3 linked regions of the Homo sapiens genome follow. The protein of the gene in region 2 interacts with the protein of the main gene of each other region in a biochemical or structural test. Each region holds a gene or a part of one and is shown on either strand. Other genes may lie near its edges. The genes, in order: USP10, SNX3 and RAB7A.

Region 1 (8,731 bases), on a different chromosome or scaffold from region 2:
AAAAAAAAAAAGCTAGCCCTTCCTCACGCCTAAAACTCTAGTTATAGGTGGAAGAAAAGTTTCTGCTGCTGGCACCTAACTTAGAATACATTGTTGTGGCACAGAAGAGCAAAGAGGTAAGAAGCAACAGAGAACCAAGCGTAATTATTTCAGCACCAGTTTGGGAAAAACTAGAGACTAGAATTTCCTCACCTGACGAATCCATGAGCAACAACAGCAAAAGAGAGCAGGAATTCCCGATGGTAAATTGGCTTAATGCTATGCACACATCCTCAGAGATGTTGACAACCAGGCTTCAGGATGAATTATAAAGTTCCAGTTCTCTGGGACATCAGATGCTCACAGTTACACTGAGCTGTGGGGGAGTGTGCTGATCCCATGCTGTCCACAAAGGTCCTATTTCAAGATGTGGGGTGCAGAGCAACAGCCAGAGCAGCTCTTAAGGTTCTGGGGAACACATGTGTACTTACATTTTTAAAAACATGTTTTTTTGCAACTTATAAATCCCAACACGGGCCCTGGCACAGAGCAAGTACTGGGTAAATGCTTGCTTAAAAGGCATAATCATGGACTTAATGAATGCCAAGCCAAACTGAAATCTCGTTCTGAAGACACGACATGACAGCTCTTCAAAGTGGCAAAATGTCAGGTTTCTCATCTGCTCACAACTGTTCCACCATTCCACTCGGCGCTAAAATAAGTGAGTATCACACTCAGAGGGAGGGGCACAATTCATATTTTTGTTGTTGTTCACGCCTAACCTAGACTGGAGATGTAACACTTTGTCCAAAATACGATTTCGTTATTGCTATTCATGCGAAAGGGCTCAACAAGTTAAAACAAAAAAAGCTGTACACAAACCCATGCGGACGACCTGCAACCTGAGCCTGGCTCAGACGGCCTGGGGACCTGCTCACAGGGATCCTTACTCAGTGTCTCTTGGTGGCACCCAGGGTGCCAGGTGATTCTGGTATTAGAAGAGGGCACTCGAGGATCACAAACCTAAAAACGCTGTTAAATCCAATGATTCCAAATTTCTAAAGTTTACTACCAAAAGTACTACAGGAAACATTTAAAATAAGGTAACAAGTCACCTAAGTTTTCCTTAATATTTTCTACGAATATAATCAAGGGACAGATGCTTGTTTTTAAAGGTGCCTCCCCCTCAAAATAAAGGGAATATGTCCCTAAATGACCTTCCCTAACTACTCTATCCAATTACCACTGAGGACACTGAAGGGCTACCTGCCTCACATTAATCTGTCTCAAAAGTCCCCAAAAGAAATGCCCTACTTCTTTCCCCTCAAAGTTATGAGGCTTAAGATGCCAAAATGAGCAGAGAGTAGAGTCCCAGCTATGGAGGAGAGCCTAAAGAATCAAATCCCTGACAACTTTCGAAGCATCTAAGTAAGACCCCTGCACAATCAACTCAACCCAGCAATCTTTTTTTTTTTTTTTTTTCCGAGATGGAGTCTGCTCTGTTGCCCAGGCTAGAGTGCAGTGGCACAGTCTGGCTCACTGCAACCTCTGCCTCCCGGGTTCAAGCGATTCTCTTGCCTAAGCCTCTCAAGTAGCTGGGATTACAGACATGCGCCACCACGCCCGGCTAATTTTTGTATTTTTAGTAGAGATGGGGTTTCAGCATGTTGGCCAGACTGGTCTCAAACTCCTTACCTCAAGTGATCCGTCTACTTCGGTCTCCCAAAGTGCTGGGATTACAGGCGTGAGCCTCGCACCCGGCCTCAACCAGCTATCTTAACACAGAGTTGCTACCAACTTCACTCAGTCCTGAGCTTGGATTACCAAATTCTTTCTCTCTCCTCTCCAGACTCCCGGCTAACCACTTCACCCTACACACCATTTCAGCCACAAATTTATCTGTTTCCCAAACAGGCTGCAGGCTTTGAGACAGTTCCTCTGCACAGTCTCCTCCACATGCCCTTGTCCGTGTGCTTCTCTGCCTGAAAAACTCCAGCTCAAATGTCACCGTTCTACAAGAGACGTCTTCCCAGCTTTGCCCAACATTCAGTCCCACTCTCCTCCTTTTTTGAAACACCTTATACCTAACTCCTGAGTCACGCAACTTCTCTCCACCTCCACGGCACCCTCCGAGTCAAAAGTCCAAGGACCCTGCCCTAAATGATCTCCTTATGGCCACTGCGACCCCGTGAGTCTATTCTTCACTGGGCAGAGTATGATCCCAAAAGGCAATGTGATTATGAGGTTCCATGGTCAAATGTTGTACCACCCCCTCTTCCACACTTTTCTCAGAATAAAGACAGTAACATCTAACAAAGGCTGCAAGGTTGGATGGTGCGTCTGTCCCTCCCCTCCAGCTCTGTGCCCAAGACACACAACTCCTTGCTGAGTTCTCCAAAGTGCTCCAAATTCCCTCCAGCCAAAGGTCCACCACACATGCTGTCCCCACTGTCTCATGCTGTAAACACGTCACTTCCACGGGAACGGTTCTCTGACTTCAGATTGTGTTCCCTTCCTTTGGGAAACATCTCTCAGTTTGGAGTGACGTGTACGTAACTGTGATTATCTGATTAGCAAGCTGTCTTCCTCAATGGACCCATAAACTCCTCCGCGAGAGAAACAATGCCTGTTTTCGCTCATCACTCCCTCCTCAGTGCCTGGTACACAGCAGCCACTCGGTAACTATTTGCTGAATGAATGAACAAACGAATGAATGAATGTTCTTGACTATGTTGTTCACACTTGTGTTACAGGAATTACCACCCTAAAACTGGATGCACCCAGCCATTAGCCTGCTTCTCTCCCTCACTACCCAGCGAACCTCTAAAGCACAGGAATTCTCTCTTCAGCTCTATACTCCTAACGTCCGGCCACCAAAATCTGTGAACAATCACAAAAGATATAAAGTCCTTCATATGTGGTTCTGAAAAAAGTGTCTAGTATTCTACAAATTAATTCTAAACAAAATAGTAAACCACACTTGGAAGCCCCGATTTTGCATTCTATTACAAGTCAGAAGTACTTAAATGTGGTTATCTCTCAGGAGTGGGACCTGAGTTGGGAAGTGTTTTGTTTTTTGCCATTGCAGTACTCTGATGAAACAAAGTGACAGAAGACAAAAACATGATTTTGAAGAAGATGGAGAAAAATTCAGGTGAATTACCCAGTTTCTCATTATTCCCTAGGGCAGGTGACTTACCAATCTCCAACTAATAAAAAGTTTGTCCTCTCATAAATCTAGTGCAAAGGCAATGGATGGACAAGAATCTGAATGTGAATCAGACCTCCTTTTTTGTTTTTTGAGATGGAGTTTCACTCTTTCGTCCAGGCTGGAGTGAAGTGGCGTGATCTTGTCTCACAGCAACCTCTGCCCCCACGGGTTCAAGCTATTCTCCTGCCTCAGCCTTCGGAGCAGCTGGGATTAAAGGTGCCCGCCACCACACTCGGCTAATTTTTGTATTTTTAGCAGAGATGAGGTTTTACCATGTTGGCCAGGATGGTCTCAAACTCCTGACCTCAGGTGATCCACCCACCTCGACCTCCCAAAGTGCTGGGATTACACGCGTGAGCCACCACGCCCAGCCAGACCTCTTTTTACACTATGAACACCGGACAGCATGACTACTACTAAGGGGGTGGAAGTCTTCAAAATATTTCTTATCTTTTCTTTTTTGACGTAAGAGTCTCGCTCTGTCACCCAAGCTGAAGTGCAGTGGCACAATCTCGACTCACTACAATGTCCACCTCCCAGGTTCAAGCGATCCTCCCACCTCAACCTCCCAAGTAGGTGGGACTACAGGAGAGCACCACCATGCCCAGTGAATTTTTGTATTTTTGTAGAGAAAGAGTTTTGCTACGTTGCCCAGGCTGGTCCCAAACTCCTGAGCTTGAGTGATTCGCCTGCCTCAGCCTCCCAAAGTGCTGGGATTACAGGCGTGAGTCACTCACTGCACCTGGCCCAAAATATTTCTTAAGAAAAAAAAAAATTGTTTGGACAACATGTTATAAGTTGTGGCAGCACTTCCACAATCCCCTGCACACTGGATCCTGATAAGTCACTTCAATCTCCAGAATATCTGCTTCATTCCCTGGCAAAATTAGGTAAACCTAAGAAAACTGACTTCAGTGGATGTTTTCAATAATTTTGAAAACAAGGTTTGCTCAATAAAGTTCAGTGACTAGATACAACAGACCATATTATGAAACAACGGAACAACAACAACAAAATACTCCAGTGGAAAAAAGCATAGAAGACACACACCAAACTGACGATTAAGGATCAGAGAGGAAGGGAATGACTTCTACTTTTCACTTTAAATACGTCTGTGCTGTTTTCGTGTCTTAAAAATAGCATGTCTTTATACTAGAAAATAAAATAAACGACTTTATTAAAATGTACCCCACACAAACTTTAGTGAATAGTAACATATTATAGTAACAAATTTTGTAATTAGTAACATTAAAGTTTCTAAATGCACATTTCATTCATTCATTCTGTAAATGTTTATGGAGGAACTACTAAGGGGAAGTCACAGTGTGAAAGATTATGCCTTCATCAGTCTCTTCCAGAAAACCAGTCTGGCAAAGTAGAAAAAGCAAAGGATTTAGAAGTCAAAACACCTGCTTTTAAAAGGTCCTGATGGCCAGCAGCCATTTGACCTCAAGCCACAACCTCTCTGGGTCTTATCTTACTCATCTGTAAAATGGTTATAATAATACAGGACAGAGTTGCTGTAAAGGCTCAAACAAGCTAAGGCACTTTCTAAACTATGCAGTTTATAGAGTTTATAGGCTTCAAATGATGACTACTACAATGCTTAGTATCTCGTAATAAATATGTTTCTCCTTCTCCAATGATCAGATCTACCCAGAAAGCCTACTTCAGGTCTTGAATAAATATATATATAGTCTTGGCCCGGCGCGGTGGCTCACGCCTGTAATCCCAGCACTCTGGGAGGCCGAGGTGGGCAGATCCCGAGGTCAGGAGATGGAGACCATCCTGGCTAACACCGTGAAACCCCGTCTCTACTAAAAATACAAAAAATTAGCTGGGCGTGGTGGCGCACACCTGTATTCCCAGCTACTCCGGAGGCTGAGGCAGGAGAATGGCGTGAACCCGGGAGGCGGAGCTTGCAGTGAGCCGAGATTGCGCCACTGCACTCCAGCCTGGGTGACAGAGGAAGACTTCGTCTCAAAAAATATATATATATAAAAATATATATAAATATAAAAATATAAATAAATATAAATACATATACAAATAAATACATATAAATATATATATAGTCTTTGCAGCCACGTAAGGGAAATTATTACTTAAAATACCAAGAGAAGGGGTATATAGGAACTCTTTGTACTTTTCTCTCAATTTTGCTGTGAACCTAAAACTGCTCTAAAAAATGAAGTATAAAAAAATTGTTTTAATGTATCAGAAGTTTTTTATATTGGGCAGGAATCTCGAAAACCTCTAGAATTGAACTTCATTTTCAAATCCTCTTCTATTTTTAACCAAAACTTCAACATGTCCTATCAAAAGTAAAAAGACTGATACTTGCAGAATGAATAGGGAGGCTAGGCGCGGTGGCTCACACCTGTAATCCCAGTACTTTAGGAAGCTGAAGCAGAAGGGATCCCTTGAGGCCAGGAGTTCAAGACCAGCCTGGGAAACACAGCAAATCCCTGTCTCTACAAAACAACAACAAATTGTTTTTTTCAAAGAATGAGTAGGGATGCTGGGGGCAGTGGCTCATGCCTGTAATCCCAGCACTTTGGGAGGCCAAGGTAGGTGGATCACCTGAGGTGAGGAGTTCCACACCAGCCTGACTAACATGGTGAAACCCCGTTTCTACTAAAAATACAAAAAAATTAGCTGGGCGTGGTAGCAGGCACCTGTAATCCCAGCTACTTGAGAGACTGAGGCAGGAGAATCGCTTGAATCTGGGAGGTAGAGGCTGCAGTGAACCCAGATCGCACCACTGCATTCCAGCCTGGGCAACAGAGCAAGACTGTCTCAAAAAAAAAAAAAAAAAAAAAAAAGCAAGCAAGGGCATGATTATGTCTGTACTCAACATACACAAATGGAAAGGAGCACATCTTCATAAAACAAAGACAAATGGGAAAACAAAAATCTAGCACCATCAGATCAGGAAGAAAGAAAGAGGGAAAGGGACGGAGGGAGGAGTCAGCTAGATGTAAAAATCAGGTTCAAAAGGCACAGGAGTGGCTGGGTGTGGTGGCTCACGCCTATAATCCCAGCACTTTGGGAGGCCGAGGTGGGCGGATCGTGAGGTCAGGAGATGGAGACCATCCTGGCTAACATGGTGAAACCCAGTCTCTACTAAAAATACAAACAATTAGCTGGGCATGGTGGCGGGTGCCTGTAGTCCCAGCTACTCAGGAGGCTGAGGCAGGAGAATCACTTGAACCCGGGAGGCAGAAGTTGCAGTGAGACAAGATACCGCCAATGCACTCCAGCCTGGGCGACAGAGCGAGACTCCGTCTCAAAAAAAAAAACAAACAAAAAAAACAAGGCACAGGAGTGGGGACACTCACCTTTTTATTAGGGATACTCTCACTTCAAAATGGACTGGTTTTGAGACTCCTGAGCCATAGAGTACAGGCTTAAGGAGATGTCCCTCCAGCTAATACCAGAAAAATAAACTGAGAATGGATCCGAAGAATGACAACCGATAAGGCTGTACACACAAGCCCAACGGGGAGGAGACTGAGGACTCTTAGGAGCAGCCACCATTACAGCGCAGACGGTAGCAGGTGCTGGGCCCGCACTCCACATGCACATTCTCCTAACAATTCTCATGTGAGCCCAAAAGGGAAAGTCGAGGAATTCAGGCTGTAACAGCCCCAAACCACATTTCTATCTCAACACCTTACCTGCCCTATTCCAGGAGAGGGCAACCAGGGCATGATGTTTCAAGACGGGACAGAATGGCAGTGCTGGTAGAGCTTCTGGGTTCTCAAGTCATCTGATGAAAATGGGATCATGGCCCAGGAGCTTTCAAATAGCCAGAAAATAGCCAGTTCAGAAAAAATCTAGGATCTGAAGATTCTACATCGAGGTTTATGATAAATTCTACATTTTCTGATCCTTGAAACAAATACTATACACATACCCCAAGGGCTACCTTTATTTTCCTACACTAATTCTTCATCCAGCCTGTATTGACAGAAATGGTCAAAGAAAGACCTTTTGGGAGAACACTTCAATAAACAGGAAAACTGCAGTCCAAGCACATACAAGTCTCTGGAAATGAACATCTACACTGCTGAAGTGGCACTAAAGTGACAAATGACAGTAATCCAATGGCCCAAGGCCAGCAAATTCCATTGCAAACAGATTTATCTGTTTTGTGCGATGGTGATTCTTGCATGTGTGGCAGTAAATAGAAAAGTAACAGCCTAATTACAAATTCAAAAGCAAGCTCTTCCCACTACGTTTCATATTTTGGTATAGTACCAGTAATAAGTGTCCTCAGCAACCACGTTTAATGTGCCACCTGAATACCAGGAACCATTAACAGGAAGTACCTACATGTCTGAAATTATATCTTTAAAAACAAACAAACAAACAAAAAACCGAAACAAAAACCCTGATGTAACTAATTCAATTGGAGATGATACCACTTTTCTCAATTACTTGAATGTTATATTCTGAGCACAGCACAGTGCAACGTGCCGCTTAGGCTTGGCATTAAACAGCAATCATTAAGCTTCGTAATCCTTTTCTCCTTTAAGTTTTCCTATGTGAATCACTGCTTAAATCCTATCAGTTCCACGTAACAGAACACTGGAATACATGTCCTAACTTTTGCTTTAGTGAGGAATTTAGAATGTGGTAGGCCCGCTTAGTATTCACTGGAATTTCAGTGCGCTGTGCTCTCAATGAGATGGGCTCAAGAGCATGATGGTGAGGTCCTGGTACGGCGCGGCTGCTCAGGCCATCTGTACAAACCACTAAGGCGACCACTGGCTCACAAACTTCTCAGGCCATCTGTACAAACCACTAAGGTGACCACTGGCTCACAAACTTAAAACATCTACTCTTAGGACATGTTTAAATAGCTTGCTGTCACTATGCAAAGGAAAACTGTTATCTCCAAATGCCCTGTCAACATTTCAAACAATTGTATTTACTTCAGCTGCTCATTACTTGAGATTCTAATAAAAATGTATCTCTTTTAAGAATTAACACTAATCCAGCTGTTGGCTAGAAACAGATATTCAGCAATACAGTAACATTCAGCCATATGCTAGAGGGGGAATCCAAGACTTTCCATCATGTAAAATGTGGAGGATCTGCTATTACAAGCTAAAAAAGAGACTGGGGTGAGTCTATGCAGAGACAAGGACAGAAGCCAACTGCATGACATTCAAATTGGGTGTAGGAAGCATTATTGTGGAGATTTCACTATAAATGACATCAATAATCACAAATATTTTTTCGGTGTAAGGCAAAACTAATAGCTTCAAATTAATTACCCCAAATAATTTAACCGGTCCCCTCAGTGACAAGGATATTCACTTGGACCTACACTTCAACTGTTAAAGTTCATTTATTTGTCTTTGCTAAAATGCTGAGTTACCGGTCTCAAAATGTTTCCAAATTCTTCACTATTACACTTCAATACAGGTAACAGGGATCAACCAACACTTTCTAATATTTGGAAATAAGGTTATTAACCTATAAACTTTTTTATTTATTTTGAGATGGAGTTTCGCTCTTTTTTTTTTTTTT
Region 2 (10,392 bases):
TAATATTATCAGTGGGATGACAACACAAAGTTACAATTTCTATGTAAAACTGGGCCTCTAGGAGGAAAGAATGGTATCTAATATTTCATTCACCACCCAACAATAGGGTTATGCATTAAGATCTTATTATTTGATGAATGTGCAGTGTTATATTTAATGACTATTTCCTCAGTCGTTTACTACTGGCTTCCTAAATGAATGCTTTTTCCATAGCCTCATGATATTTTTTAGGGTTTGAGACAGGGTTCCATTCTGTCACACAGGCTGGAGTGCAGTGGTGTGATCTTGGCTCACTGTAACCTCCGCCCCCAGGGTTCAAGTGATGCTCCCACCTCAGGTTCCTGAGTAGCTGGGACTAGAGGGGCACGCCACCACAGCTGGCTAATTTTTGTATTTCTAGTAGAGACAGGGTTTTGCCATGTTGGTCAGGCTGGTCTTGAACTCCTGACCTCAAGTGATCCACCCACCTCAGACTCCCAAAGTGCTGGAATTACAGGAGTGAGCCACCATGCCCGGCCTCATGTTTTGATAATAGATTCTCCAAGTGCCTTTTGATTTCCATTATTTCAATGTTACATGAGCAAACTCTAGACATAAAATTGGCAAACCTTTTCTTAAAGGGCAAGATAGTAAACATACTGTTTCAACTACTCAGTTCTGCCCTTATAGAGTAAAAGTGGTCTTAGATAATATGGGAAGAAATGGGTATGCTGTGTTCCAATAAAACTTTATTTATAAAAAAAGGTAAGCCCATAATTTGCCAACCCTTGCTCTATTTAAACTCCTCAGTGTCCTAAGAATGTCCTCAGTTATATACCATGGGGGAATCTTTGGGTGTAAATTTAAGACAAGACCTGGTGATATACACATACATGCCTAGCTGACAAGATTTTTCTCTACTTGTTTCCACTTGAAGATAACCAGTAAAGTCAAGACAAGAGAGGGGTGAGATACCAAGACCAGACACAAGGAGGGGCTTTGAGACTCCTCTGTTTCTCAATATGGACGAGACTTATACAACAGAGAACTTCATCCCACAAGGGCAGGACTAGAAAAAACGGAAAGCAAACAAGCTATAGGTGGCAGGTGCTAAAATAACTTTAGGAAAGCCAAAAGAAATGCTCCATCAGTGATAAAATCAAAGTTTACAGAACAAATAATTATCAAATGACCATTCCAATACTGCTGGACACAAAGTAACTTTACAAAATTATTTTAAGTAATTCTCTACTTCTCTGCTAAGAGATTAAGTGATTCTCTGCCAAGAGACACTGGCTTCATTTATTTTGGTGGCTCAAATTATATACTCCATCATTCAATGTCAGCAACTACAATGGTGGTCCTAAGTAAAACCAAAATAGTTTTAAGCAGCCTTGGAAGGAAAAAAAAAAAGGTTAATCAACTACCTTTAGAATCTCTAGCCCAATCTCAAGGTATACCCCTATCAGATATGCCATGTCTTCATGCTTGCCTTTTTTCTCAACTTAACAAAATTAATTATCATGAAAGAATCAAAACTTACTCACTTAAGACTTCCAAACTAATGAAAGTACAATTTTATTTCTTGCAAATCAAATGAACTTACTCTAAACTGAAATTCCAGGCATTAGCAAAAAAAGGAAATAACAGATGATCACAGTGTAGCTTAAAGCCATATCCTAGAAGGGCCAACCACAACCATTTGTTAATGTGGCAAAGCAAAGAACAGTGTCTACTCTTCCCTTCTTCACATGGCCACCTGGTTAAATTTCCCAGCTTCTTTTGTAGCTAAGTACAGCAATGCGCAGAAACAGAAATAATACGACTTCCTGGTTGTGTCCTTCAAGGGCAGAAATAAACATTCCCCTTGGCTAGAATGTGAATATGATGTTAGAAGCTGATAGTCAAGCCACAATACTAACCCTGGACTGTACCTGAAACCTCTCCATGTGGAGAAAAAAACCAAAAAAACAAAAAATTATCCTCTTTATCTGAGAACAGCCCAAACTCTATACTACCTGATACAACCTTTCTGGCAAGCTATAGCAAACGTCACATTTTACTAACACATTCCAAATTCCTAGGTTGTCAGTTAAATATTTCTTTAAAGAAGTAGTGGCCAGGCGCGGTGGCTCATGCCTGTATTTTGGGAGGCTGAAGTGGGCATATCACTTGAGGCCAGGAGTTCGAGACCAGCCTGGGCAACACGATGAAACCCCATCTTTACTAAAAATACAAAAATTAGCCAGGCATGGTGGTGCACGACCTATATATTCCCAGCTACTTGGGAGGCTGAAGCATGAGAATTGCTTGAACCAGGGAGGCAGAGGCTGCAGTAAGCTGAGACTGCACTATTGCACTCCAGCCTGGGCAACAGGGTGAGAGACTGTCTCAAAAATAAATAAATAAATAAAACAAACAAACAAACAAAAAAATGAAGTAGAACTTTGGTTGAAAGCTTTGTCTTTTAACTAAGGAATCAAAACAGTAAACTGCAGTTCCAGTTTCCTGTGCTGGGTCTAAGGAAGGGATGGCAGGCACCACGTCCAGCTTCCTGACAGGCACCTACGGCAAGAAGCCCCTGACGAGAAACAGGCCAAGGAGATGTATGAGGAAGACAAGGATTTCAAGCAGAAACAAGAAGAGGAGCAGAAAAAACTTGAGGAGCTAAAAGCAAAGGCCACAGGGAAGGGTTCCCTGGATAGGTGGAATTAAGAAATCCGGCAAAAGTCTATGGCCATTCTATCCTGAATGCAATTGCTCGTCTGATCTCAGAAGCTAAGCGGGGTTGGGCCTGGTTAGTACTTAGAAGGGAGAAATCTGGAAAACAAGAACAAAAACCAAAAAACAAACCACTGTGTCCGAGGCAATGATGACCCTTGATCCCATTCCTATTTAAATATCTGCATTTCCTACTATAAAATCTTCTGCTTCCACTCTAGGAAGCAAAGGATGAAATGTCTTGGAGCCTGTTGCACATTTAAGAATAAACTTTTTTTCTCTTTTTCTCTTTTTTTTTGGCACAGAGTCGCGCTGCCACCCACCGCAACCTCTGCCTCCAAGGTTCACGCAATCTTTGTGCCTCAGCCCCCTGAGTAGCTGGGATTATAGGCATGCACCACCACACTGGCTAATTTTTGTATTTTAGTAGATATGGGGTTTTGCCATGTTGGTCAGGCTGGTCTCGAACTCCTGATCTCGAGGGATCCACCCGCCTCAGCCTCCCAAAGCGCTGGGATTACAGGCATGAGCCACCACACCCGGCCCTAAGAATAAACTTCTGGAAAAAAGAAAATAGCAGTTCCAAGATTTTTTTGGACACCATCTTTCTTATCTGATGTTCAAGAAATTGCTGGCTCTATTTACATGAAAGCAGCATAACATGGTACAAACATCAAAGTATCTAATAATAACAGTCTACTACTTTCTGGAAGGGGTGAGATAAGCATGATGATAAAGGTGAGCAGGAGAGGAAAATGTCTATTGCATGTGATCACCAGGATAGCTCAAAGCACTTTTTTAGATTTTCCCCTTTACAGGTATAAAGTGACAATATTTATAAAGATTCCTTTTTTGAGGCATGCTTGATGGCATGCAACAGTAATCCCAACTACTTGGCTGAGGTAGGAGGCTCACTTGAGCCCAGGAGTTCAAGACCAGCCTGGACAACACAGCGAGAACCTGTCTCCAAAAAATTCCTTTCTTAAATGAATACATATGTCTTTTTTTTTTTTTTTTTTTTACTTCTGGCTTACTTTCATGATTATTATACAGGGATATAGACATGGATGATGCAAGACAAGGGCAAAAAGATCTGGCTTGATTGAATGTAGTCTGTGTCTCCCCTTCCTCCCAAAAACTTAAGCTGTAGAGATTGGTATGCTTTCAGTTAATATTTAAATGCCTCCCCTCCAAAAAGTTTTCTATCTTTGACAAATGTCACTGGTTTTCCTCTCTGTTGCCAAGATCTGCTATTCATTTTATGTTTTACTATTTTAGAATCTATTTTTTTAATCCCATCAAAGCTACCAACCATTGTGGTTCTATGTATATTTCTCTTCCTTCTCTACTGTCTATCTATCTCAGTGAGACAGATAGCATGATAAGCAGCAGGAGAAATCCTTGCTGCATATAAGTGCCCTTACTGGGATGCTTTTTAAACCACCACTGCCGGCCGGGCTTGGTGGCTCACGCCTGTAATTCCAGCACTTTGGGAGGCCGAGGTGGGTGGATCACGAGGTCAGGAGATGGAGACCATCCTGGCTAACAAGGTGAAACACCATCTCTACTGAAAACACAAAAAAAATTAGCCAGGCGTGGTGGCAGGCACCTGTAGTCCCAGCTACTCGGGAGGCTGAGGGAGGAGAATGGCATGAACCCAGGAGGTGGAACTTGCAGTGAGCTGAGATTGCACCACCTCACTCCAGCCTGGGTGACAGAGTGAGATTCCGTCTCAAAGAAAAAAAAAAAAACCGCCACTGCCCAAACCCCACCCCACCCCAGTAAAAGAGAACCTGAATGGTTTCAAAGGCTCCTCAGGTGATATGAATTTTCTGTGAGGGCTCTGGGCAACCATGGTAAAACCTTGTCTGAGACAAGCCTGGGCAACATGGAGAAACCCTGTCTCTACAAATACAAAAAAATTAGCCAGGCATAGTGGCGTGCTCCTGTAGCCCCAATTACTCAGGAGGCGAAGGTTGGGAGGGTTGCCTGAGCCCAGGAGGTCGAGGCTACAATGAGCCCAGATTGCACCACCGTGCACTCTAGCTTGGGCAACAGAGTGAGACCCTGTCTCAAACAAAAGTACGGGCTCTGAAGGTCCGAAAATCTAGGTTCAAATCCCAGTTTTACCATTTAATAGCTGTGACCCTGGGGAAGTTAACTTTCTTAAACTTCATTTATTTGTAAGTGTCCACTATGTGCCAAGCAGTGTTGGATATTGAGTAAGGGTGATTATGACAGTCCCTGTCCTCTAAGAGCTTATAATGGGTGACACAGGAACTTACAGGAAGCCAAAGACAAGCAAACAAATTTATTCCTAACAAAGCTACCAGGGCACACAGGAAGGAAATCTGGTCCAGAGTCAAGGGATCAGCAAAATCTTTAAAAAGGGGACATTAAGGCTGAGTCCTGCAGGATAAGTGATAGTAACCAGATGAGGCTCTTAAAGGAAGCCTGTTCTTAACAGAGGAGGAAGTGTGTGCAAAAGGCCTGGATACAAAAGAACTCAGCTTAATTGGGAGATACCAGTTCAGGACTGGAGTTAAAATGAGGAAAGGACAAGAGATGAGGATCAGTTGATCAGCTTCTACAGGAATATTATCTACTCTGCTTGGTTACCTCAAGATTAAATTTTATAGATAGAGCACAGTGCTTTGCACATAAAAGATACTCAAATGATACATCCCTTAACAGAACAGAATCCCTAAAAACTCAATATAACAGGACTACTTTAAAATAGCCACTGTCTTCCTCCCCCACTCTCCATTCTGGGGATGGATTAGATAAGGACAGAATCTTCACTGCTAATAGCATGCTTCTCCTTGATGGAGATCCTGGAAAAGTCAGCCGTAGCTGGCAGCAACATGTGTAACAGACAACATCTCATTGGCCAATTGATAGAGCTACATAGATTCTGCAGATGTCCTCTGGCATCAAAATGCCCTGATTTTTTTTTCTTTGCTTTGCTTTTTTTAGAGGCAGGGTCTCACTGTGTCACCCAGGTTAGAGTGCGGTGGTATGATCGTGGCTCACTGCAGTGTTGACCTCCTCCTGGGCTCAAGAAATCCTCCCACTTCAGCCTCCCACATAGCTGGGACTACAGGCACACGCCACCATGCCTGGCTAATTTTTAAATTTTTGTAGGGACAGGGTCTCACTGCGTTGCCCAGGCTGTGTGGCAACGCCTGAGCTCAAGTAGTCCTCCCACCTTGGCCTCCCAAGTGCTGGGATTACATACAGGAGCCACCGTGCCCGACCCCCCGATTCTTTAAAATACTATTAATATTTTAGCCCTTCAATAATACATGTTTATAATTCCCAAAAATAAGTCTAAGATTTTAAAATTTATTTCTCAGCTTCCAATCTGGATATTAATGACTCCTAATTTAAGATTAGATGACTGACCCAGAGGAAAAAACATATACAAGTTTAGAACGGCAAGCACTGTCAAGATAAGATGCTACATTTATTTAGCACCTTGTCAAAATTTTTATCAGCCAACGTTATTATTCAGCTTTATGCTTTAATAAAGCTCAACTTTAAAAGATTATTTGGAGCCTGGCATGGTGGCTCACACCTATAATCCTAGCAGTTTTGGAGGCTGAGGTGGGAGTATCACTTGAGCCCAGGAGTTCAAGAGCAGCCTGGGCAACATAGTGAGATCTCGTCTCTACAAATAATTTAAAAATTAGCTGGGTGTGGTGGTATGCGCCTGTGGTCCCAGCTAGTAGAGAGGCTGAGGTTGGGAGGATCACTTGAGCCTGGGAGGTCAAGGCTTCAGTGAGCTGTGACTGCACCACTGCACTCTAGGCTGAGAGACAGAGGGAGACCCTGTCTCGAAAAAATAAATACATACACAAAGGTTACTTGGTTAAGTACCAAATAAGATAGCTTATTTTTATACCATGCTTGCTTAATGAAGGTATACTTCCATGACAAGTAGGTTTCTTGACAAGAAAATCTAACAATTTTAGTAACTCAACTAAACATTAACACACAGAAAATGTAGTTGATCACTGACGTTTAATTTAGAAAATGTCTATCTTTAGAAAGAGCTAAATTTTGCGTGCTTATTATGTGCCAGGCACTGTGCTAGAAAGATTCATGTGCCTTATCCCATTTAGTCCTAAGAGGTAGGTACTATTATTAGCACACCTATTTCACAGAGGGGAAGTGGAGCTTTGATTTTGTATCTTACCCAGCTAGGAAATGTTAAATCTATTCTTTGAACTGAGGACTATGTCAGAGCTCAAGAAAGATTCTAATTCCATTCCTGTTCAAAACAGTGGTCTCCAGGTAAAATAGATCTTGATTAACTTAAAAATCTCCAGAATATTAAAGTTATATTACAGCACAAACTTCATAAACAGTGACTGAATTTTGCTTTCAGCCTTCTCTTGAATATGCCTAAATAATTCCAGACCTTGAACTTTCCTAAACCTTTAATCATTTATGGTGCTCTCTGCTGTACCTACCCATTAGAACAATTTTTAAAAACATAACACTGTGTAATTATTTTCAAAAGCCCAGAGATACTAATCAAGTGATCCTAATAGTCTTAAACACTATCCTCAAACCAAAAGATAAATGGAGATTGGGAAACTTGCATTCTAAGTGCCACCATCCATATAAAATTGCCCTGTGAATTAGAGTAATTTCAATCAGATCCTGTAAAACTGTAAATTTTTCTCAAGACCAGAATGAGACAGTAACTGTAAGATAGTTTAAAAGCCCAAATTCTGGAACATAAAATGGTTTTCCACATAGCAAATTCAACAGCAAAAGGTAGTCAGTAGGGGTTCGGGAGAGCAGCAACATTTAGAAAATAATAAATAAAATTGCAGGGCTGGGTGAGGTGGCTCATGCCTGTAATTCCAACACTTTGGGAGACTGAGAGGGGGAGGGCCACTTGAGGCCAGGAGTTCAAGACCATCATGGGCAACATAGCAAGTCTCATCTGACAAAAAATAAAAAATTAGCCAGGTATAGTAGTACCCTGTAGTCCAGCTACTTGGGAGGCTGAGGCGGGGGGAATACTTGAGTCCTCGAGTTTGAGAATGCAGTGAGCCACAATCATGCCACTGTGTTCCAGCCTGGGCTACAGAACGAGACTCTTATCTCAAGAAGAAAAAAATTACAAAATATTAAACTATTCATGTCATAGCCACTCTGCCTTAATGCAAGACTATAATTACTCTAAAAAATCATATGCTGCTCAAATAAGGCCTAATTTCCTTACTATATGGTGTCCTTAGTTTTAAGTTAACACATTACATACTAAAAGAAATCCAGGCTGGGCATGGTGGCTCACGCCTGTAATCTCAGCACTTTGGGAGGCCAAGGTAGGCAGATCATGAGGTCAAGGGACTGAGACCATCCTGGTCAACATGGTGAAACCCCGTCTCCACTAAAAATACAAAAATTAGCTGGGCGTGGTGGCGCGTGCCTGTAGTCCCAGCTACTTGGGCGGCTGAGGCAGGAGAATCGCTTGAACTCGGAAGGCAGAGGTTGCAGTGAGCCAAGATCGCGCCACTGCACTCCAGCCTGGCGACAGAGCAAGGCTCTGTCTCAAAAAGAATAAAAATAAAAATAAAAAAAGAAAGAAATCCAAAGTCATTTCATGCATTAAAAACTCAATTAGGTTTTCACATAGGCACTGGCATTTATGACTGTTAACAGCTATTAACACCCAGTGAGTTGGTTTATACAAAAATACAAACCAAAGTAAGTGTATAATTTGTTAGTTCCCTGACTCATTAATCGTTCTTAAAAAAGATTATTTTCAGGCCAGGCGCGGTGGCTCATGCCTGTAATCCCAGCACTTTGGGAGGCCAAGGCAGGTGGATCACGAGGTCAGGAGTTCAAGACCAGCCTGACCAACACAGTGAAATCCCATCTCTACTAAAAATACAAAAATTAGCCAGGCGTGGTGGCGCATGCCTGTAATCCCAGCTACTCAGGAGGCTGAGGCAGGAGAATCACTTGAACCTGGGAGGCGGAGGTTGCTGTGAGCCAAAATAGCGCCGCTGCACTGCAGCCTGGGCAACAGAGCGAGACTCCGTCTCAAAAAAAAAAAAAAAAAATTTTCTTTAACATGTAAATGACTATACCAAAACCCTTTTTTCTCTCTCTCCTGAGATAGGGTCTCATTCTGTTATGCCGGCTTGAGTAGAGTGGCCTCATCATAGCTCTCTGCAGCCTCGACCTCCTGGGCTCAAGTGATCCTCCCACCTCAGCCTCTGGAGTAGCTGGGACCTCAGGGATGCGCGCCACCACGCCCAACTAATTTCTTTTTTTGTGGGGAAGGGGTTTCAACGTGTTGCCCAGGCTGGTCTCAAACTTCTGAGCTCAAGGGATCCACCTGCCTCAGCCTCCCAAAGTGCTGGGACTAGAGGCATGAGCCACTGCGCCAGGCCCAGAAACCATTTTTAAGTGTCACATCAGCTATTTGCTAAGGTATTAGGTGTATTAAAAAAAAAAGAGGATTAAATTATTATACTAGAACCCATTTAATATAATGCATTCAGCAAGATAAACTCAAAGTAAGTGGAGGAAGTGTAGGCAGGAGATTCCAATTCAGTTTTGTGACAGGAAGTACCTGCTATGGAAGTATAGAAACAAGAATACCAAGTTCTGTTTTAGCACAAGAAAGAAAAAAAAAGAAAATACTAGTGAATAGGGCAAAAGAGGAAGTTCTTTTTAGTGAACCATCTGTCATGTATTACAGACAATTAGAAAAACATTCACTTTTCCACTAGGTTTATGTATGAATGTAGTTCCCCAGGTGTACTGAAGTCTGGATTTTGCAGTTTCCCTATGACAACATATCCTATGATTCAATTTTTATTTATTTATTTAGAGAAGGGATTTTGCTCTTGTTGCCCAGGCTGGAGTGCAATGGCCCGATCTAGGCTCACGGCAACCTCTGCCTCCCCAGTTCAAGAGATTCTCCGGCCTCAGCCTCCCGAGTAGCTGGGATTACAGGCATGCGCCACCACACCCGGCTAATTTTGTATTTCTAGTAGAGATGGGGTTTCTCCATGCTGGTCAGGCTGGTGTCGAACTCCTGACCTCGGTGATCCGCCCAGCTCGGCCTCCCAAAGTGCTGGGATTACAGGCATGAGCCACCGCGCCCGGCCTATGATCCACATTTTACACATCCATAAGAAGACAACAGTGGCTTGAAACATTAAACTATTCGTTTCATATCTTAAAGTTTGATTAACTTTTTAAAATCAATGCTAACTACGTAAGAATCATTTTTTAAAAATACTTAAGTTTCACAACAATGTGAATATACTACTGAGCTGTATGTACACTTAAAAATGGTTAGGATGGTAAATTTGATTTTTGTGTTTTTCACGACACAAAGTGTGTAAGTTAATGAGAATTTTTTCACTTAAATGTTAATAGTAGCTTGTCATATAAATTTTGATTAAAGGAAAAATCGCTTTACACTTAACTTTTAATAATTTGCTGTCATCTTTAAATTAATGTAATTAATTTTTAAAGATGCTTCCATACATGGGCAAATTCTTTAATCCTGAATTATAGAGTGAAAGTGAAGCACTATTTTCAATTAACATCTTTCAAATCATCTAAATTATTGCCAACAAATACTAGTTATGAAATTAGGTATATTTTATTTCTGTTGATTTCTTTATTCAATTAAGTGCAAATCTCGAATTAAGA
Region 3 (10,392 bases), on a different chromosome or scaffold from region 2:
TCTTTCTGACCACCGACCTCTGCCCACCCAAGCCCTTGAACAATATTTTTCTTGATCTTTTTACCTGCTCATGTTTCCTTATTTTGTCTGCTTATGTGGCCATTTGGCTTTTCTGTGGCATAGATGAAGAAGGTGATGACTGCAGGCGAATAAAGGAAGATGCCAGCTTTTGATTTGTTATGAGAAACATTGTACTTGAAAGAAAGAATTGTTTCATCGTTCAAATACTGGTACCAATACTGGTAGTTTCGCTCTGAGGAGCTTCTTCCGATGCACACTGGTGAGGTTTGGTTTGGTGGCAGAAGGAAAGAAATGTGTTATGAATATACCTTATTCTAGAAAATTTTTAGAGGATATTAATATATACATGGATTAATGGATGTTATCTAAAATGCTTTCCTTGAAGGACCAGGTCTCAGAGATCTTATGTAACTCTTTCTTCCTTTCTACTCTGCTGGCTGCAGATTCTCCTGTGAGAGGAAGTGGTCGGTGCTTTAGAGAACTGTTTTCCAGTTAGAAATTTCAAACTTTGTAGCCTTTTTTTTTTTTTTTTTTTTAAATCTTTGACTTCATTTCGCTCTGTTGCCCAGGCTGGAGCGCAGTGATGCGATCTCGGCTCACTGCAACCTCTGCCTCCTGGGTTCAAGTGATTCTCCTGCCTCAGCCTCCCGAGTAGTTATTACAGGTGTGTTTCACCACACCCAGCTAATTTTTGTATTTTCAGTAGAGATGGGTTTTTACCATGTTGGCCAGGCTGGTCTCGAACTCTTGACCTCAAGTGATCTGCCCGCCTCAGCCTCTCAGAGTGCTGGGATTACAGGCATGAGTCACCCATGCCTGGCCATAGGCTTTTAAAAAATAATTTCAGTCTTCAGAAATCCATGAAGATGGAAATAGAAATTGATAACAAAAGCAGAAATTGCTTTTGGACATTTTGAAGCTAACTCTGCTTGGGCAGCTTCTTGTAGCAAAAGTTGCATTTAGTGTGTTTTGTTCCTGGCTTTTTTTTTTTTTTTTGAGATGGAGTTTCACTCTTGTTGCCCATGCTAGAGTGCAGTGGTGTGATCTCGGCTCACTGCAGCCTCCACCTTCCAGGTTCAAGCGATTCTCCTGCCTCAGCCTCCCAAGTAGCTGAGATTACAAGCGCGTGCCACCACGCGCAGCTTAATTTTTGTATTTTTAGTATAGCTGGTGTTTCACCATGTTGGCCAGGATGGATTTGTCAGTCTCTTGACCTCGTGATCCACCTACCTCAGCCTCCCAAAATGCTGGGATTACAGGCATGAGCCACCACGCCTGGCCCCTGGCTCTTTTCTAGAAACAAGTGTCCCATTCTTGATCTGGGAGAACATTAAGTACAAAAATATACCTTTTAACTTTTGCCAGTTTAAAGCCATCAATGTCCTGGTGAAAGAAGATGTGGAATTCTTAGTATCAGCTGTTTAGTACCATTTGCAACAACTCTGAAATGCTTAGCCAGCCCTGAGTGAAGATGAAAATCTGCATTTAAATGTAATTTGTCTTACATGATGAGTGGAGATTTTTGTCATCAGAAATTGATTTGAAAAAATCAACAGATTAACATTTTTCTCCAAAGTGGAGGTGGCTGTTTGAGTGTAAAGGTAATGTGCTCCTCTAAGAGTCACAGTTAAGTATAAGGAAACAAAAACATCTGTAATCCCACCACATGGAACAACTTGCTAATATTTGTGTATATTCCTTTCTGCTTCATGTGTAACCATTTTTACATTTAAATCTTTACTCCTTTGGGAATCTCTTGGAAGAGGAGATGTAGAGATCTTAATTCTCACCAAAATTTTTCTGGCTCTTACCATTTAGTGAATTGTTCATCTTTTTGCCACTGAATTTTATAATGCCATATTTGTCAAAATTGTTCATTTCTGGTGTCTGTTTCATTGATCGGTTTAGTCCTATTCCAGCACCCCACTGTTAATACTGTATTTTTATAACATGCTTTTCAAGACTGTAAAGGCAAGTCTCTTGTCATTTGTGTTTTAGGGGAAGGGACATTTCTTGTGTATTTATTTATTTTTATGAATAAAAACGGGATTGTTTATATTAAATGCTCCCCAGCCTCCCCTTCCCACCTCAAAAACAACAACAACAACAACAACCCTGGACTTGTTTAAATAGGAGAGAATGCATGAATGCAAGTCTTTACATTAAGGCTCCCATAGACTGTTTATTCAAATTCTTTTTTTCTCTGTAAAATTATTTTTCTCATTTAGGTCCTGTACTCGTGCTAACCACTGTAATAGTGATTGTTGTATAAATGGGAAAAATCTTTCAGGAAAGTGAATTAGCAAAAATCATGAAAACTTCTTCATGTTTTGTTTGTTTTTTTTTTTAAAGACAATTTTGCTCTTGTTGCCCAGGCTGGAGTGCGGTGGTGTGATCTCAGCTCACTGAAACCTCCGCCTCCTGAGTTCAAGCGATTCTCCTGCTTCAGCCTTTTTGGTAGCTGGGATTAGTTGCCCACCACCACGACCAGCTAATTTTTTGTATTTTTGGTAGAGACAGAGTTTTCCCATGTTGGCCAGGCTGGTCTCGAACTCCTGGCCTCAGGTGATTCACCTTCCTTGGCCTCCCAAAGTGCTGGGATTATAGGCGTGAGCCACCGCGCCTGGCCAAAACTTTGCTCTGGACTCAGAAATCCCATCCCTAAACAGAATCTGTGAGTTACAGTTGACAAAATCCTTTCCTTGCATGAGAATTTGACTTTTGTTTAACTTTCTAGCTCTGTTTCCCTGGGAGCTAGATAAGGCAGAACATAACATTTGTTTCTGGGCATGGTCCTTGTGGTAAAATGTCCCCTGGTTGGTAAATTACATTTGGATGGGAAAGAGCCATGGATAAGTGATGGGCCACCCAGGCTTTTGTTTCATGGAACACAGTGACTCTGCTGGGCATGTCCTTATGGGGAGCCTAAGGAGCTGTCAAAAGAGATACTTGCACCCCCAGGATTGAGCATTCTGAGTCAAGGTATTGAGTCGGCACAGTCTCCCTGTGCCTGAGCCATCTTCTGTATGGACTCTTGCAAGAACTGCTGCTGCTGATGACCTGCCACTGCCCTGCCTGCCAGCTTTGTCTGTCCCAGTCTTTCTCAGTGGGCTTGTGCCACATGTGGCCTGTGATAATCTTACGAGTCAGAATCTAGAAAGATCTACCCACCCATCAACCCTCACACAGGTGTTGCTGTATCTCAAGGAAGTAATCCCATAGATTACAGCATTTTTTCCAAATTTTTGTTATATTAAATAAAGAGCGGGAATGGCTATTTAAATGCTTAATTCACTCAGAGGAATATTAGACATTAAGACGTAAGGTGGTCTCACGGTCACTGCTTTGTGACACGTGTGGGTAGAGACTCAAAGGGAAGGAAACAAACATGAATTCTATCATGTAGGAGTCTGGAGGTTGAAGTGTATTTCCTGTTTTTTTTCTTTTTAATATTATTAAACAGCATTGGTACACCAGTGAAACCTATTAACAAAGCAAGTTATGCAAATCCCTTTTCCCATTCTTAAAATCAGTCACTTTCATAAATATTCTCCAAATATCTTTGCATATCCTTTTATCATCTTTTTATCTATTTTCTTTTTTTTTCCTTTTTGAAAAAGAGTCTTGCTCTGTCGCCCAGGCTGGAGTGCAGTGGTGTGATCTCAGCTCACTGCAACCTCTGCCTCCTGGATTTAATCGATTCTCCTGCCTCCGCCTCCCGAGTAGCTGGGACTACAGGTGCGCACCACCACACCCAGCTATTTTTTTGTGTATTTAGTAGAGATGGAGTTTCACTATGTTGGCCAGGGTGGTCTTGAACTGCTGACCTCAAGTGATCCACCTGCCTCGGCCTCCCAAAGTGCTGGCATTACAGGTGTGAGCCACCACACCCAGCCTTTTTTTCCCTTCCCCACCACTCACTGCAACCTCTGCCTCCTGGGTTCAAGCGATTCTCCTGCCTCAGTCTCCCGAATAGCTGGAATTACAGGCACCCACCGAGCTAATTTTTATTTATTTATTTATTTATTTATTTATTTATTTATTTATTTATTCATTTGAGACAGTGCCTCGCACTGTCACCCAGGCTGGAGTGCAGTGGCGTGATCTCGGCTCACTGCAACCTCCGCCTCCCGGGTTCAAACGATTCTCCTGCCTCAGCCTCCTGAGTAGCTGGGATTACAGGCGCGTGCCACCATGCCCAGCTAATTTTGTTTTGTTTTTTGTTTTTTTGAGACGGAGTCTCGCTCTGTCGCCTAGGCTGGAGTGCAGTGGCGCAATCTCGGCTCACTGCAACCTCCACCTCCCGGGTTCAAGCCATTCTCCAGCCTCAGCCTCCTGAGTAGCTGGGACTACAGGCACATGCCACCACGCCCAGCTAATTTTTCATATTTAGTAGAGACGGGGTTTCACCGTGTTAGCCAGGCTGGTCTCGATCTCCTGATCTCATGATCCGCCCGCCTTGGCCTCCCAAAGTGCTAGGATTACAGGTATGAGCCACTGTGCCCAGCAATTTTTGTATTTTTAGTAGAGACAGGGTTTCATCATGTTAGCCAGGCTGGTCTTGAACTCCTGACCTTGTGATCCACCCACCTCGGGCCTCCCAAAGTGCCGTTATTACAAGCATGAGCCACCGTGCCCAGCCTTTTCTATTTTTAGTAGAGACGGGGTTTCACCATGTTGGCCAGGCTGGTCTCGAACTCCTGACCTCATGATTTGCCTACCTTGGCCTCCCCTTCTTTCTATTTGAAACTTGCCCCCATTATCATCATCTGATCTCTATCTTGAAATATGATACCAGACCTTAGAGTGTGACATTTAAACTTTGACCAGTCAAAGCGGTCCCTGGGGAGAAAGGTAGGGGAATAGTGGGGCTCCACATATAATGGATAGTTTGGGGTATACCTCTCAGTGCTGATTATGATGGAAGACAGAACTCCAAGTCATCTTATACTGCCCCTAACTAGCACTAGTAAGAACTTTCTAGATGAATGCTGGTGGGCTGAGATACCGTGTCTTCACAGTCCAGCCATGGGCATGAGGCTTTTGGCAGAGAAACAGCTTGACCCTCTGCATAGGTCATGGGACCTGGGGTGTGTGCCTAGCAAACCATCCTCTAGTCTGGCTCCTATTCCCATACTGTTCTTGTAGCCAGAAACAGACTCTGAAGCCATCGAGGATGGTTACTTTCAAGAGCGTAGGCCTTCTTAGCAAATCCTGCCCTTTAGGACAGTAGTCAGGTCTGATATTTCCTTTTAGTTAGTGGTCTTGGGTGTAATACCACCTCTTGAGAAAGAGAACAATTGACAGCCAAGCATCTGGAAAGAGAGGGATAGCTGGATTACCTTGCCTAGGAGCTGTAACCTGCTGCTTCTCTCACTGTCTTCTGGACTCTGTGTTCTGTTACTCATCTCTGTATTTGGCATACCTTAAGATGGTAGCGGCCAGTATTTACTAGTCATCTGCTGTATTCTAGTTACTGTCCTGAGCATTTTATTTATTCAGTCTTCACAGCATTCTTAGGACATAAGAGCTGTCATCTCTATATTCCCTATTCCAACAGAGAAATTAAATGACTGGCTCAAGGTCATATAGCTAAATTAATAAGCGGCAAAACCAGAATAGAAATCCCTGTGGCCTGGGTTCATATCTGCTGCTTAAGTCACTCCCACTATAGGCACTGCTGTCAGCCTTGCCTTCAAAAGGTAGGTGGTTAAAGAGGAAACTAACAAGTAGTTCTTCTGAGTCCCATTCATTTTCTGGAAGTCACTGAGTCATACCCTGGCAAATGAGAGGCAATTACAGCAGGAGCCCTGTCTTGATGAGTAGATAGACCATGCTGTGGCAAGTCCTGGAAGACAGTTGAGCAGAGATCAGGCATTTTTCACATCTTCTGGTTATGAGTAGACAAGGCTGCCTGAAAGATTTTCTGGAAAAGAGTAGTCACTAGAGCTGCAGAGTCAAGTATTCAGACGGTACCCAACATTTAATAAATTTCTACTTGGCATTGAGTATACAGTGGGGAGTAAAACTGTCTTCATGGAGATTGTTAGAAAAGGGATAGACTAGATTAATATAGTACATAAAAATGTCAATTAGTGGTAAGTGCTCTGAAGGAAAAGCAAGCAGAGTAACGGGATAGAGAGCAAATGAGGGGTTATGCTGCTTTAAATAAAGCGGTCACTTCTTTGAGAAAGTGATACTGAAGCAGCGACCTGAATGAAGCAAGGACCAAGCTGTTGAGTAAGTTGGAGCATTAGTTCAAATTGCCAATCCATTCAATTGATCCACCACCCAAGTGAGAGAATACATTCTCTCCAACAGCTTGCAGGGGCAGGATGGCCCTGCTGTGCTGTTCTGCCTCGCTCTTGGGTCCAGAGTTTTGGTGAGTGATACTGTTTTTTATCAGTGCCCCCTGGTGGAAGGAAGATACCTAGCAGGAAGGTTCAGGGCCCTGCACTGTTGGGGCTGCTCAGACATTTGTGCAAGGGAGGTGTTTTGTTTTGGTGTTTCCATCACACTCACAGTGATTTCTCCTTTTCCCCCTTTAGTTTGAAGGATGACCTCTAGGAAGAAAGTGTTGCTGAAGGTTATCATCCTGGGAGATTCTGGGTAAGTTACTCATGAATTTGAGCTAACAGATTGGCTTAGAGCTAAGCCTCTCTGCTGTGGAGCCCACACTGTCCGTGCTGCCACTTCTTGCTTTCATAGTGAGGCTTAGGGCCTTACATGTTTCCCTCCACGGCAGAAATTTAGATGATCCCTTGTTATATAACCTTTTGTTCTCTAGTTTTTAGCATGATTTTTTATGGGGAACGGATGGCTATTTGAACTCAACTAAGGATAGGCATTTTCATGGAATCCCTTTTCTCCAAGCTGGCCAGGCTGGGGAGTCTTCCTTACGTAGATGTATTGCCATTGGCATCTGGCGTAGCAGATGTGCTTTTTTTTTTTTTTTTTGGAGACAGAGTCTCGCTCTGTCGCCCAGGCTGGAGTGCAGTGGCGCGATCTCGGCTCACTGCAAGCTCCGCCTCCCGGATTCACGCCATTCTCCTGCCTCAGCCTCCCGAGGAGCTGGGACTACAGGCGCCCGCCACCACGCCCGGCTAGTTTTTTGTATTTTTGGTAGAGATGGGGTTTCACCGTGTTAGCCAGGATGGTCTTGATCTCCTGACCTCGTGATCCGCCTGCCTCGGCCTCCCAAAGTGCTGGGATTACAGGCGTGAGCCACCGCGCCCGACCCAGATGTGCGTTCTTAGTGCACCATACAGTATCCTCCTGCTGCTGTGCCTGCTTCAGATCTATCTGCAAAAGAGCCTGGGACGGCAGAACTGGGTTCTGATTCTAGATGTGCCACTAACCATGTAGCTAACTCTAATGGCTCTTAAGATTCTGTGGTAGGTTGGGTGAGGTGGCTTATGCCCATAATCCCAGTGCTTTGGAGGCTGAGGGGAGGATTGCTTGAGCCCAGGAGTTGGAGACCTGTCTCTACAAAAAAAATTTAGCCAGGTGCCGTACCTGTAGTTCCAGCTGCTGGGGAGGCCGAGGCGAGAGGATGGCTTGAGCCCAGGAGTTTGAGGCTGTAGCAAGCTATGATCATGCCGTTGCACTGCAGCCCGAGTGACAGAGCAAGACCCCAACTCTTAAAATAAAAAGATTCTGTGGTAGGCTTTTCAGACTTGGCATCTGAAGGGACCCATGAAAGCTTTGACTCATTGGAAGCTTATGTATTTTTAAAAATAACAACAATAGCAAATGCAGGTATGCTTCTTTATTCCAAAGTCCCCTGCCCTTCCTTTGAAAAGCCAGAGGTTTTTCTGTCTTGACTGGCTTATTTGAATCACCTGCAGAACCTTTTTTTGTATGTGTGTGAGAGACAGGGTCTCGCTCTGTTGCCCAGACTAAAGTGAATGGTGCAATCACAGCTCACTGCAGCCTCAACCTCCTGGTCTTAAGCCATCCTCCCACCTCAGCCTCCAGAGTAGCTGGGACCACCAGTGTGTGCTACCACTCCTGGTTAAATTTTTGTATTTTTTATAGAGACAGGGTTCTACCATGTTGCCCAGGCTGGTCTCAAACTCCTGGGCTCAAGCAGTCCACTCGTCTCGACCTCCCAAAGTGCTGAGATTACAGGCTTGAGCCACCATGCCCAGCCTTTGAAGAACCTTTTGTTCGCTAGCATTTGCCCAGCCCCAGACCAGTGGGCTAGGGCCTAGATTTGTGCTCTCTCTCCTACCCCGCAACTCCATCCCCGTCGGGATGGAAAGATAGTGCTTTTAGGCCTGCCTTCCCCAAACTTGTGCAAAAAGTCTCACCAAGCCCTTGTTCGATTCCAGGTTTTGCCACCTCTCACCTTGTAGATTCTGGCTTAGATGGTCTGGGTTGGAAAACACTGCCTTCGGCTGTCTAGGTACCTCCAGGTTCTTTAACACAAATATGAACATGTTCCTTTGTGGCCAAGAAAGGTGATATCACTGGCTATGGGGGGGAAGGTTTTTGTATTAGCTTTAGGTTACCTTAACCTTATCACACAAAAATCACACATTGTCTCTTGCTGAGTTTTCTTACTAGAAAACATATTTGGAGGAGCATTCTTTGAGGTGGATTTGTTTTGGTGATATATTGGTGCTTTTTCTGCTTCAGATTTTAAACTTTAAAGCAGCAAATTGTCTGAGTGGTGTGTGTCTGCTGAAAGCCAAGGTCTTCCTCCTGGTGTTACTTCATCAAGCTAAATAGCAGCCACTAAATGGAGAAACATCTAAGATAGCAGGGATACTGTTGGAATAGCAGAACAGTCTTAATAGTGAAGCTTCTTTTAGAAAGCAGTATATTTGCTGGCATCCTTCTAGAATGGAAAAAATAATACTAGGCTCTACCATTTGACCTGGCTGTGCCAAAACATGTAAGCAGCTTTTCCACATCTGCCCCACATCTGTACCCTATATTTTTACCCAGAGAGAAAACACAAAACTTCAAAAGTGTAATGCTCGGAAGGCTACTGGCATTGCCCTTTGCTGTGAGGGCAGTTTCTTGTCCTTCAGGTCAGGCAGATTCTTTTAAATGCTTCAAGTAATTCGTGTCAGTTTCAGGACCCTCCTATTTGACTTATACTTATGGTTTTTCTCCAATTTCAGAGTCGGGAAGACATCACTCATGAACCAGTATGTGAATAAGAAATTCAGCAATCAGTACAAAGCCACAATAGGAGCTGACTTTCTGACCAAGGAGGTGATGGTGGATGACAGGCTAGTCACAATGCAGGTAAGCACATGTCTTGGCTGTGCTGACCAGGCCTTGATAGTTCATTTAGTCTTAATCTTTCCTCATGCATAGACATTTTCCTTCCCTGTTCTTCAAATCTTATTATCTTATTTGTAGATAATTGGCTGATACTCAGTTAAATTTGAATTTCAGATCAATAGTGAATACTTTTTTAGTATACTTCTAGTGTATCTCAGATACGACTTGCTAAGACACACTAAAAAATTCTTCTTAAAAAAAAACTCAGATTTATCCTTTCTTGTTTTTTGTTGTTTTTGGTTTTGTTGTTTGCTAAATTTGGCAACCTGCAGGTCTCTGTCTTGTGCCTCTCTTGACATCCTTGCCCAGTGCTTTAGGTAAACATCTTTGTCTCACCTCAGTAGTGAGACATAAACTTTATTTTTCTGACTTCCTATTTCATACGTAACTTCAAGAGTTGTGTGTCTATTGAGCCAATCTTTTTTTTATGTATCAGCTTATTAATCTTTCAAGGGTTCCCTTTCAACAGTTAGGATAAGATACAGATTCTTTCATATGACTTGTTGAAAAGCCTTCACATTCTGGCTATAAACTATTATTCCCTTTTTTTCCCCCATTGAGTCATTTTGTTTGTATACATGTATTAACATCCCTAGAAAAGAAACCCCTGAAGGATGGATACCTTGAGCCCAGGAGTTTGAGCCTGCAGTGAGCTGTGACTGCTCCATTATACTCCAGCCTGGGTGATGGAGTGAGACCCTGTCTCTAAATTTAAAAAAAAAAAAAAAAAAAAAAAAGAATCCCAGGATTTTCCCTCCTGTATTTTCATCTCTTTCTTCATGGTCCATGATGCCAGCTGAGGTTGTCAGTACAACCTCACTTTGAAACCAAACTATTGGGATAGGAGTAGATTATCCTGTCATTTTTCTAGATCTTTGAGTTGCACATCACATCTGGGGCCAATCATTCCAGGGGCAGTTTTAACCTGCCTGTGAGGTTTACAGTAATTTTCCCAGCTCTGTGATGACCAGTGATTTCAAATTTTCAATGTGATCATGTTTCATCTTCACACTTAGAACCAGACCATGACTTGGGAGCACAGCCTAATAAGAACCTGGTGTTTGCCCTTGAGAG

Evidence for each region.
Region 1: the proteins of SNX3 (region 2) and USP10 form a complex in vitro, tested with the Homo sapiens proteins (one study listed by BioGRID).
Region 3: the proteins of SNX3 (region 2) and RAB7A form a complex in vitro, tested with the Homo sapiens proteins (one study listed by BioGRID).

What each region holds. Positions count from the first base shown.
Region 1 is NC_000016.10:84,703,000-84,711,730, reverse strand, and holds part of USP10 (ubiquitin carboxyl-terminal hydrolase 10), read right to left. Parts: intron 6,992-8,731; exon of another isoform or gene 6,904-6,991; coding exon of another isoform or gene 6,871-6,903; intron 1-6,870. UniProt on the Homo sapiens protein: Hydrolase that can remove conjugated ubiquitin from target proteins such as p53/TP53, RPS2/us5, RPS3/us3, RPS10/eS10, BECN1, SNX3 and CFTR.
Region 2 is NC_000006.12:108,249,693-108,260,084, forward strand, and holds part of SNX3 (sorting nexin-3), read right to left. Parts: intron 1-10,392. UniProt on the Homo sapiens protein: Phosphoinositide-binding protein required for multivesicular body formation. Specifically binds phosphatidylinositol 3-phosphate (PtdIns(P3)).
Region 3 is NC_000003.12:128,788,791-128,799,182, forward strand, and holds part of RAB7A (ras-related protein Rab-7a), read left to right. Parts: intron 1-6,569; 5' UTR 6,570-6,577; coding exon 6,578-6,630; intron 6,631-9,152; coding exon 9,153-9,279; intron 9,280-10,050; exon of another isoform or gene 10,051-10,392.